Regions from separate parts of the Homo sapiens genome. Here region 1 is linked to region 2. The links come from fine-mapping of genetic effects on gene expression. Tissue or cell type: whole blood. Region 2 holds a variant in brackets; the other region holds the start of a gene. All regions are shown on one strand. Distances are between the middles of the regions.

Region 1 (5,518 bases), 86 kb after region 2:
GAGCCAAGATCGAGCCACTGCTCTCCAGCCTGGGTGACAAAGCGAGATTCTGCCTCAAAAAAAAAAAAAAAAAAAAGAATAACCTGCCCCTTTAACCTACCAACTCTCTTCTCCTCTTTAGTTTGTTGAAGCAAAAACAACGTAAATATTGCATTAACCAAGTGTGTGTATGAGAGAGAGAGAGAGAGGAGAGAGAGAGAAGAGAGAGAGAGAGAGAGAATGAGCAGTTATGGCTCTTGGCATTTTTTACTGGACAAGGCAAACCTAAAGATTTTACTTTTAAACTTGAATTAATGCTGAGAGTAAGTCACATCTGCCCTCACTTCCCTCCCACTCCACACAAACATGCATACCACTGGAAAGGCAACATTTTATCAAAGGCATTTGGCGTTTTTCCTCTCTTATGACCCTCTAGAAGCTTGAGAATGTGGGAGAGAAGGGCTGGAACCAGAAATGGAGAAGTAGTGCTGGAACAATAATGACCTGAAAGCCAGTGGAACTGAGGTCTCCTGCAGGAACTTTTGGGGAGGCCTGGATACTTTGGAGACCAATGGGTATGGATGGAAAGAAGAGCAGAAATGATTCAGCTCATAAAGCAGTGAAAAGGAATGATCTAAGTACATGAACAAATCTTTAAAGCAAAATGTTAAAGTGTGGGAGCAAGTTCTACAGAACACATACAATATGATACTTTTTTTTTTTTTTTTAAAGAGACAGGGTCTCACTCTATTGCCCATGCAGGGGTGCAGTGGCACAATCAGAGCTCATAGCATCCTTCAACTCCTGGGCTCAAGCCATCTTCCCACTTCAGCCTCCTGAGTAGCTGGGACTTCATAGGCAGGCACCACCACACCCAGCTAATTTAAAACAATTTTTTTGGCTGGGCGCGGGGGCTCACACCTGTAATTCCAGCACTTTGGAAAGCCGAGGCAGGCAGATCATGAGGTCAAGAGTTCGTAGACCAGCATGGCCAATATGGTGAAACCTTGTCTCTACTAAAAATACAAAAATCAGCTGGGCGTGGTGGGATGTGCCTGTAGTCCCAGCTACTTGGGAGGCCAAGGCAGGAGAATTGCTTGAACCCCGGAGGCCGACATTGCAGCAAGCCGAGATTGCGCCACTGCACTCCAGCCTGAGTGACACAGCAAGACTCCGTCTCAAACAAACAAACAAACAAACAAACAATTTTTTTTTTTTAGAGATAGGGTCTTGCTATGTTGCCCAGGCTGGTCTCAAACTCTGGGCCTCAAGCCGTCTTCCCTCTCAGCCTTCCAAAGTGCTGGAATTACAGTCGTGAGTAACTGCACCTGGCCAACATGATGCCATTTACATGCAGCTTAAACGCATATACATGTGTTGAATCAGTGTCATGTGTTGATGAGGGACATAAACACATTTACTAAAAGTATAAACAGTTGCATGGGAATTAGTAACTTTAAATTCATAAAATTGTACTGGCTATCAGGTGAGTAGGGGACAAGTGGAATGAGGGAATGAGACCAGCTGGGTACCCAAATATTGCTAATGTTATTGCTTAAGCTGTGTGGTGAATACACAGGTGTTCAATTTACTATTATTTCGCACTTTCCGTGTACTTTAGCTATTTGACAATACATTTAAAAATCGAAAACTTATCCCATAATCCCAGGCTCCAGAGGTGATAGTAGGTGGTGTTTTCCAGACCTTTCCCGCTGCCTTGATTTTCTGTTAACTGGCCACCATCCTTGTCTCCTCGCGCTGCCGGTCGCTGCAGAACCCCTGCGCGGAGGGACTGCCAGTTCCCAGGAAGGTGCAGGACAGCTGGAGCCTCTTCTTCTCTGGGCAGGGATTTAAATGTTCTTGGGTAGCCTCGCCAGAGACCTGTGCGGCCCTACAGTGACCTTCTTTCCAGCCACTTTCCCATGAGCTCAAAGCTTTGGATTCTGTCACTTGCAAAGGGTCAGGCCTGATCCCTTGCGGGTTCTTGAGAAGTGAGTAAGACTTCCAGCGCCCCGGCCCAGACTGCGACGACCCAGACTGCGACGACCCAGTCTGCGCCTGGCGCAGGCTCCATAGACGGCTTTTCTTCAGCTCTGTCCACTGAGACCTCGAGCCCTTGAGCAGAAGATGGGAGAGAGAGGGTCTTGCTGGGCGGGCTCCAGAAGTCCTCCTGGCTCTGGGCGCAGGAGTTGGAAGAGAAGAGATAGAGAAACATCTACTCACCAGAATTGTAAACTGGAAGAAGGGTAGAGGAAAGGTGCCTAGAGAGGGCAGCTGGAATCAGGATTGGGCTGAATATTTTAGGAGTCCCCAAGTGCTACTTCTATCCGCTGGGAGCACGGGTTCGAATCTGCCCCCAGGCAGCCCGCTCCTGGTTCTCTTGTCCCCCTGTGCTGCGGCGGGGCCCACTTCGGCCCTCGGGTTCCCCGCACAGGCCACACAGGGCAGCAGCGCGCGCCGTACCCACGGGCAGTTCGAGAGGGCCGCGCGTGGCGGAGCCAGGCCCTTCGCCAGCGCCCAGTACAAATTTAGTACTAGAATTAAGAGAAACACACTGAAATCTGACAGCCCCGCCTAAGACCCGGGCGTGAGGAAGTCTGCGGTGGGTGATGAATACAAAGAACAGTTTCTCTTTCCTGTCAGTAAAACGCTGTTTCCAGAGCCTGCCAGGTTTCGCCCCAGTGGCCACACCTATGCCTGGCAGGTGCTGGTCCGAGCCCCTAGCGCCAGCAAAAGAAAGGAGGCGGACGCAACATTCTCGAATTACTAGGAGAAGGAGGGAGGCTTTCCCTTCCCCCCAGTGCCCCATGTACCAACGCGTCTCGCCATACCCCTTGCCCCTCTTCCAGCAGCTGACGGAGTAATTCGAGTAGGAATCGAAAGATTTGGAGGCGCCGGGGGAGAAACCTGCGGAGCGCTCTCCGAGCCTGTGGCGTCCCAGGAAGACTCCGAGCGGGGCCAGGGAAGTTCTCTGGAGGACATGGGGTGGATACCCAGGTCTCCTTCCCTGGGTGAAATAAGAACTGAAAATCTAAAAATAAAATAAATAAAATAAAATAGAAAACACAGAGAAGCAACAAAAAAGCGCTTCCCCTCCTCAGTTCTCCCCAGTCCACCCAAGGTTTACCAAGACTGTTGTAGTTGCAAGAGTGGGCTTCCGGCTCCACGTAACGATGCGATTGGGCTGTACCTCTGTCTGTCTCCTGCGCGATGTCCCGCCCCGGGAGGTGTCACGGAACTCAGCTGATATAAGCCCGGGATCCCGCCGGGTCAGGTTCTCTGCTCTGGACTTGGGAGGCTCCGTTGCCTGCTCCCGGAGGGAGACGCGCTGCCGAGGAGAACCCAGCGGGTAATGAATCCCCCGCGCTTCTTTGCCCAGGCCTTCCCCAAACCTCCCCCCGGTCTGCGCGGGTTCTCCTATTGGGCTGTGGTGAAGACAAGGTGCGGCGACTGCAGCTCCCCAGGTCTGGGCGCTGCCGGGAGAGAGTCTTTCCCGCTGGGGAGATTTAGTTTGTTGACTCAGGAGCACCTCCAACGACAGCTAGTGGCAGAGGACCCGGGAGCTGGGAGGTTCGGAACGCGGGGCGAGCTGGGGAGGAGGGAGAGGCGCCGACCCAGCGCAGCCTACATCTTAGCAAACCAAACCTGGCAACATTTCCCCACGGTTCAGGAGCACGAAGGACTTAAGGGAAAACGACGAAATCGGGGCTCCCGAGGATGAAGTTAAATGGGTTGTGGCCTGGGGACAAATAGGGCCAATGTCCAGTCTATTACAAGAGGCTTTGTTCCAGAGGCTTGCCTATAAGCCCCTGGCTTGGAACGTCAGTCTTCAAACTGTAACAACAGGGGCAGGCTACTAGGGTAGCCCACAAAGCCCTGTATCCCCCATACAGTGACTAACTAGAGCCCTAGTTGGTCATATCCGCAGTGGCTGAGACTGCGGTGTGATTCCGTTTCCCTCTTGCATGTGTCCCGGGAGCCCGAGTTGTCGAAGCCCAAATTCAGGCTCAGGAACCTGATGTGCTGTTGATGCCAAACACTGACACACAGATGCTTGGAGACAGAGGAAGATTTATTCCATTTGGCCAAAGCGAGAAGGCAAGAGGTCAAGATCTCTCAAATCCACCCTAACAAAAAGAAGTAGTGGGGAGTTTTTATGAGACCAGGAAGTAAGGGAGGGGGAATTTCAGGGAACCTCGGGGAAAAGTCTTTCTTCGTCTCAGATTACATCTTGAACCACCAGACTTCTGGGCGTCAGCAGCTGGTCACAATGCCCTTAAAGGCATTCATTCCTTCTGCAAAATTTTTTTCTTGACTCTGAAGCTATATCCTCCTGCTTGACAAAGAAACGGTGCATCAGCAGTTTATAATTATATTGCTAGAAAAAGGAATATTGGGCAAAAAGTGGGTAGTTAACATATGCAAATAAGCAAGGGCCTCATCGGAATTTTCATGGTTTCATCACTAAAAATGTTGGGGTGCTGAAATCTTGAGGGGCTCGGTTGCACCAGAAGGGGATCCTTTGTCACTAGTGCAGGCAGGAAGGGATGCTTGAGGGAGGATGGGGGGAACTTTTCAATAGTTCCTCCCCTCCCCTACCAATAGCGGGTGGGAGGGCGTTGGTTTAGAGCCAAGCCTCTAGGAGAAGATGAGAGCAATGGCTAAAGTTTGTCTGGCCTCGCCCTATGAGAAGGGGGCGGAGGCTGTGCCTGCCTTTGTGGGGGAAAAAGAAGCCGATTCCTAATCTGTCTGTCTCATGGGAGGTGAGAGTTCCTGTGGCAGGATAACAGACAAGCAATTCAGTGTGATAACATCCTGTGTCAGAAGTATTCATTTAAATGTCACAAGAGGCCGGGCGCCGTGGCTTATGCCTGTAATCTCAGCACTTTGGGAGGCTGAGGCTGGTGGATCACGTGAGGTGGGCGGATCACTTGAGGTCAGGAGTTCGAGACAGCCTGGCCAACATGGTGAAACCCCATCTGTACAAAAAATGCAAAAATTAGCTGGATGTGATGACACATGCCTGTAATTCCAGCTACTCGGAGCCTGAGGCAGGAGAATTGCTTGAACCACCCCCTCCCCCCACCATAAAAAAAGTCACAAGAATTAAACTCTTTTGTTTAAGAAAATAAGCAGTTTTATTATTTCCATGTAAGAGGAAGAAGAGGAAAATGCTGTGATCCACTCCTGGCCTGATTATGAAAATTCACACGTGTTTATAGCAGCCCCACTTTAACCATGGGATATGTCCCAAGACCCTAAGTTGATGCCTAAAACCAGATGCCTGAAACCATGGGTAGCACCAAACCCTATATCTAATGTGTTTTTTCCCTATACTTTCACTGTTTCACTTAAAGAAAGCACTTAAAGAAAGGCTTTTCTTTGGCATATCTGAATTGCCAGCATCACTACTCTGGAGATTTGGGGCCATTAAATAAAATAAGAGTTACTTGAACATAAGCAGTATTAGAGTTGATCTGGTAAGTAAGAAGGCTACCAAGTGACTAAGGGCTAGTAGCATATACGGGGTGAGTACACC
Region 2 (6,392 bases):
AAGAAGTCATTCTGAAAAATTTAAATATTTACCAACATAATCATCCTCTTAACCAAACTTGTTACCTTTTTTTTTTATGTTTCCTTCTAGTGTTTCTGCAGGGGAAAAAAATTGAACATTCGAGTGTTTTACATTTGCAAGAACTTGAGAGACAATGGGGAATTTTTGTTAGTTTTATGTTCAATAAATCCATAAACTAGGCAAATATCTTTCTTAACAAACTCTTGTGAGAACATAATAAGTTGTTATAGATAAAATAAAGTTTTTTGGTTTGTTTTTTTTGTTTATTTGGTTTTTTTTTTTTTGGAAAAGTACAAAGCCCTTAGTTGATAGTGATGGTTCTGGTCACGCTTGCCTGGAATTCTCTAATCAGCCCTCTCCCCAGCACCCAACTCAACATCTCTTTGCCCACCTCCTCCCCTTCCCCTTCTTCCACCTCCTGTGTTTCTCAGCCCTGGGTTCTCAGGTCCTGCTTGAGACCTGGAGCCTTTTATTTTAAGGTTCATGCATCCTTAAGTTGGAAGGCTTTAGGTGGGAAGAGACTTGGGAACCTGCTTGCTCAACTGCCTAAATTTACAGATGAAGAGTCTGGGGTCCAGAGAAGTGCCGTGACTCACCCAAGCTCATACAGCTAGCAGGGAGCAGAATCAGAACTCAAACCCAGGGCTTTCAGGTCCCATCTAGTGTTTTTGCTGCTCACTTCCTGGGAACTTCAGATTCCCCTGAACAGGAAAATCAACAAAATGTTTAAGGAAATCATTCTCCATGTAAAAACACTTCATTTCTCCACCTTTTTTCTAGTCCTTCTCTGTAAGCATTATATACATCTTTATTTTAACATAAGTGCAATTGGAGTAAACATTTGATCCTGATTCTGCATACCAATGCTTTTTCCATTGCTCTTAGTCTTTTTATTCATGACTTTAATGGCTGCAATATATTTCATCCAGCTGGTCTTGATGCAAATTACTTGGCTTTTTTTCTTGAATTATGTTCTTGGGCTGTGTTTCCAGGAGGAGGATTACCAAGGTGAGATAATAGAACAATGTTCTGAAGATCCAGTCTTTGCACTGGCTCTTCTTGTACTTGGCCCATGGTCCAGGCCTGGGTGGCCGTACCTCCCTCGTAACCCTTATTGCCTCTTCCTCCTTCAGGCTGCCAACAATCTCATTGTCCTAGGCCGTGAGGAAGCAGGGGCTGAGAAGATCTTCCAGAACAATGGAGTAGCCTTGCTACTGCAGCTTCTGGACACTAAGAAGCCTGAGCTGGTGCTGGCTGCAGTGCGGACCCTGTCGGGCATGTGCAGCGGCCACCAAGCCAGAGTAAGTGCCCGGCTGTGGGGCATGTGGAGCAGACGACTGCTGGTCCAAGGATCCGGAGGGTGACGTGTGGTCAGGGCTGTGGCTGGCATCAATGGAACCAGATAAAAAGTCAAAGGGTGCTCCAGTCTCTTTTTCCCTTTCAGTTGGAAATGGGTTTCACTAAGCAAAGACAAGTTACTGAAAGTGCCTAAGGCAGAAGTGATGAATGCAAAGGCTATGATATTTTACATTTTTTCATGCTAAGTCTTTGAAACCCAGTGTGTATTTCACACTACAGCATATCTCCATATGGTCCTGCCACCGTGCAAGAGCTCAACGGCCCCATGTGGCCGGTGGTCACTGTATTGGATGGCACAGCTCTGACCTCCAGAGATGGGCATGGCTTGTTGTCAAGAGGTTTCCAGGACAGAGGGGCCCATGAGGCAATGGCTGCCTGGGCTGATTTCTCTACTGCATGGGATAGGGTGGGGAGGATTATCACACCCTCTCTAACCTGCATGGCAGCTAGAAGGGAGGGGCAAGGCAGCTGACCATGGTTCTTGCTGGGGTTCTAGGCCACAGTGATTCTGCATGCAGTGCGGATAGACCGAATCTGTAGCCTCATGGCCGTGGAGAATGAGGAGATGTCTCTGGCTGTCTGCAACCTGCTCCAAGCCATCATTGACTCCTTGTCTGGGGAGGACAAGCGGGAGCATCGAGGGAAGGAGGAGGCCCTGGTTCTAGGTAGGAAACATTCTTCAGTTTTGATTCAAGGGGATGGGGAAAGAAAAGGTCAGTTGCTACCTCAGACTGGGAATTCCCTGTATGTGGGGGTGGCTTGGTTTTATGTATTTTCTTTTCTTCTCTTTTTTTGAGATGGGGTCTTACTCTGTCACCCAGGCTGGAGTGCAGTAGCGCGATCTAGACTCACTGCAACCTCCTGGATTCAAGCACTTCTCCTGCCTCAGCCTCCCGAGTATCTGGGACTACAGGCACACACCATCATGCCTGCCTAATTTTTGTATTTTTAGTAGAGACAGGGTTTCTTCATGTTGGCCAGGCTGGTCTCAAACTCCAGACCTCAGGTGATCTGCCTGCCTTGGCTTCCCAAAGTGCTAGGATTACAGGCATGAGCCACTACACCTGGCCTGTTATATGTATTTTCTGATTATAAAAGTAACAGGCATAGCTGCAGTATTCACAATTGCTAAAAGATGGATACAACTCAAGCGTCTATTGGTGGGTGACTGGATGAGCAAAATATGGTATATACATACAATGAAATATTAGTCAGCCTTGAAAAGAAAGGAAAATTTGACACATGCAACAACGTCAATGAACATTAGGACATTATGCTAGTGAAATAAGCCAGCCACAAAAAGACAAATACTGCATGAATCCACTCATATGAGATACTTAGAGTAGTCAAATTCATGGAGATGGAAAGTAGAATAGTGTTTGGCAGAGGATGGAAGAGGGGAAATGGCGGGTTATTTTCTAATGGGGACAAAGTTTCAGTTTTGCAAGATGAAAAACATTCTGTGGATAGATTGTGGTGATGTTTGCACAATGATGTGAATATACTTAATGCCACTGAACTGAACACTTAAAAATGGTTAAAATGGGGCCAGGTGCAGCGACTCACTCCTGTAATCCCAGCAATTTGGGAGGCCGAGGTGGATGGATCATGAGGTCAGGAGTTCAAGACCAGCCTGACCAACATGGTGAAAACCTGTCTCTATTAAAAATACAAAAAGTAGCCGGGCATGGTGGCGCATGCCTGTAATCCCAGCTACTTGGGAGGCTGAAGCAGAAGAATCGTTTGAGCCGGGGAGGCGAAGTTTGCAGTGAGCCGAGATTGCACCACTGCACTCCAACCCGGGTGACAGAGTGAGACTCCGTCTCAAAAAAAAAAGGTTAAAATGGTAAATTTTATGTAAATTTTACCACAGCTTAAAAAAAGTAACAGAGGCTTATTGAAGACATTTGGGAAAATATAGAACTACGTAAAAATGAGAATAAATGCCTATAATTACCCATTCAGGTAATCACTATTACCATTACCACATGGATCTTTCCTCTCTTTTTTTTTAAACCATCAATATTTAACAAAATTGGAATTCTGCTATGAATAGTTATATGTTTTTTTCTGCACTGAGCATTATATTAATATTGCATACCATTTAATATTCTTTAAAAGGACTCCTTTGATTTTAATAATTAATTTTACATTTGTTTCCTGCATATGCACATACAGACTCATGCTTCTCCGTGCACATCCAGGTCCTAGGCATCAATTTAGAAGATATTGCTCTGGCTGGGAGGGCCAAAGAGGCAGGTTCACTCAGAAAACTTTATTTTCAAGAATATCATAATCTTCCCTTGTATGGATTATTCATCAATCAGCTCTATATTATTGGAGATTCCAGTTATTTCCAATTTGCATGTTTATACAAAACTCTCCAGGAGCCATTTTTGCATCTATGCTTGCATTTATAATTTATTTTTATTTATTTATATTTATTTATTTATTTATTGAGATGGAGTCTTGCTCTGTTGCCCAGGCTGGAGTGCGGTGGCACGATCTCAGCTCATTGCAACCTCCACCTCCC[G/A]GGTTTAAGCGATTCTCCTGCCTCAGCCTCTGCTAATTTTTGTATTTTTAGTAGAGACGGGGTTTTACCATGTTGGCCAGGCTGGTGTCAAACTCCTGAGCTCAGGTGATCCGCCCGCCTCTGCCTCCCAAAGTACTGGGATTACAGGTGTGAGCCACCATACCTGGCCACATTTATAATTATTTCCTGGGGTCAAATTCCTAGAAAAGGAGCACTGGGTCAAAGGCTATGAGAATAACTAATGTTCTTTCTATATCTTGCTCTCTAATTCCTTTCTGAGAGGCTGCATCAATTTATACTCTCACAAGCAATGATGAGAGTCTCCATTTTAACACATTCTCATCAGATCTGAATGCTATCCTTCTTAAAGATATTTGCCTATCCAGTAGATTCAAAATTATCGTGTTAGATTCAAACTAAATTATTCATCAGATTGATCATTTTTCTGTATCTTTATTAGCCATTTGGATTCCTTTGTCTTTGGATGGTTTGTTCATGTTGTTACCTATTTCTTAATGTTGTTCTTATTTGTCTATAAGAGTTTTTTTTTGTTGTTTGTTTGCTTTGAGACAGAGTCTTGTCTATCATTCAGGCTGGACTGTAGTAATGCAATCACAGCTCACTGCAGCCTCAAACTTCTGGGCTCAATCCTTCCACCTCAGCTTCTGGAGTTACTAGGACTACAGGCTCGTGCCACCATGCCTGGCTAATTTTTAAATTTTTCATAGGGACAGGGTCTCACTTTCTTGCCCAGGCTGGTCTCAAACCCCTGGCCTCAAGTGATCCTCCTGCTGTGGCCTCCCAAAATATTGGGATTACAGGCCACTGCGCCCAGCCCTGAAGTCCTGGATTCTTGATGTGACTCTGACTTACTATTATTATAATGGTCAGCTAGTCACTTTCCTTTTCTGAGCTAGAATTTTTGGAAGATCCAAGATGGCCCTGCTTGTGTGGCTGGCAGTCAACTGGAAATGTTGACCTTGTGGCCTTGTGACCTTGTTGATCTTGTGGCCTTGCTAGTGGCCAGCTTGGGTTTCTATAGAACATGGTGGCTGGATTCTAAATGGACAAGCCCCAATGTGCAAGTGCCATGTAAGCCTCTGGTTGTGCCACAGGTCACATAAGCAGCCCAGGGCCAGTGTTGGAGGAGATTACCCAAGAGCATTTATAATGAGTGTCGTGTTTCCCAGGGAGACACCAATTCACAATCTTCCATGACTTCCTTGGGTTGAACATCTCTGCTACAAAATTCTTCCACATATTGATTTCCACTCTATCCCCTTGTAGCTTCCATCTGCCTCTGGTCCAAAGTCTGCCCTCTGGAGCCTCACAGAAGGAGTCTGTTATCTCACTCTCATGACATGCCTCTGTCTGAAGACGAACTGTCACATCTGCTTACATCTTTCCTTCTTTAGGCGATGGAGCTGTATTCCTTCATCAGTTATTTATCTGACATGGTTTGGAGAGCTTTACTTTTTGGTTTGCCTGCCTTTGGGCTCCATCCTAGAATGAGAACAAAAATCTCTAAGTATCTTGGAGGGCAAAATCAGAAAAAAAGGCATTTGCCTTTTAAGATCTACCAGTGGGCAGGAAGTCCCGGCGTCACAGGCAAAAGCTTGAATTCAGGCTCCCAGCATGCCTGAATCTGTGGGGAGTGAAATGTCCCTAAAAAGTACAAATTCCCCTTCTGGAAAGCATTTTATTAAATCAGTTTATTAGAAACCACATAAAGCATCCCTGGATCTCTGCCAGTCACTGGTAGGAGTGAAGAACTTTCTAAGAATCTGAACTGCTCAAGGATGGAATGAGCTGTTGTAGAAGTCAGGGTTCAGGGTGGCTGGAGGACCACTTGGGGGTGTTGTCTAGGGATTTCTCTCCCTTTTTCCAGGTGAGATGGGCAACACTATACTCCCCTGGGAATTCACATATTCAGGAAGTAGTGGATTCAGTACTTCCAGAGTCTAGAAGCTGCTGCTCTTCTTGGTCATATATATGTGAGATTTCCTACCCCTCTCTACTTACCCCGTCCTCTTTTTCTTCAGACACCAAGAAGGACCTGAAGCAGATCACCAGCCACCTGCTGGACATGCTAGTCAGCAAGAAGGTGTCTGGCCAGGGCAGGGATCAGGCGCTGAACCTGCTCAATAAGAATGTTCCCAGGAAGGACCTTGCCATTCATGACAACTCACGTACCATCTATGTGGTGGATAATGGTGAGAAGAGGGGAAGGTTTGGGGCTTGCTCAAGCCTTTTAAGTGGGCACCAGGGCACTGAACAGAAAATGGAAGATGTGAGGCTCTTGAAGGGGTCTTCAGTTCTAACTGAAAAGATGAGAAAAGGCATTGGCCCATCAGGATCCACCAGTGGGCCTGTGAAGGTGCAGGTCAAGGCTCTGAATTCAGAGCCTGAACATGCCCAGGAAGTGCCCAAACACATCCCCAAAACATGTGGGTGAAGCAACCTAGCAAATGGGGACAAG

The links. PIP is the estimated chance that this variant, and not a neighbour inherited with it, causes the effect.
Region 1: it holds the start of SLFN5, and the variant in region 2 is fine-mapped to the expression of SLFN5 in whole blood (TOPMed, PIP 0.99).

The regions. Positions count from the first base shown.
Region 1 is chr17:35,239,816-35,245,333 of GRCh38, forward strand. It overlaps SLFN5 (schlafen family member 5), which reads left to right and starts at 3,257. Exons shown (of 5, transcript NM_144975.4): 1 at 3,257-3,328. It overlaps LOC105371932, which reads right to left and starts at 4,336. Exons shown (of 4, transcript XM_047437262.1): 1 at 4,296-4,336; 2 at 3,107-3,404; 3 at 2,811-3,010; 4 at 228-2,155. The coding sequence starts at 4,336. The coding sequence ends at 1,708. RefSeq lists enhancers at 3,009-3,068, 3,589-3,698, 3,672-4,300.
Region 2 is chr17:35,153,420-35,159,811 of GRCh38, forward strand. It overlaps UNC45B (unc-45 myosin chaperone B), which reads left to right. Exons shown (of 20, transcript NM_001267052.2): 6 at 1,155-1,322; 7 at 1,877-2,045; 8 at 5,956-6,126. Among named protein-coding and RNA genes, the nearest start is that of UNC45B, 8.8 kb to the left of the region's middle. The variant G/A (reference allele first, on the strand shown) is at 3,914.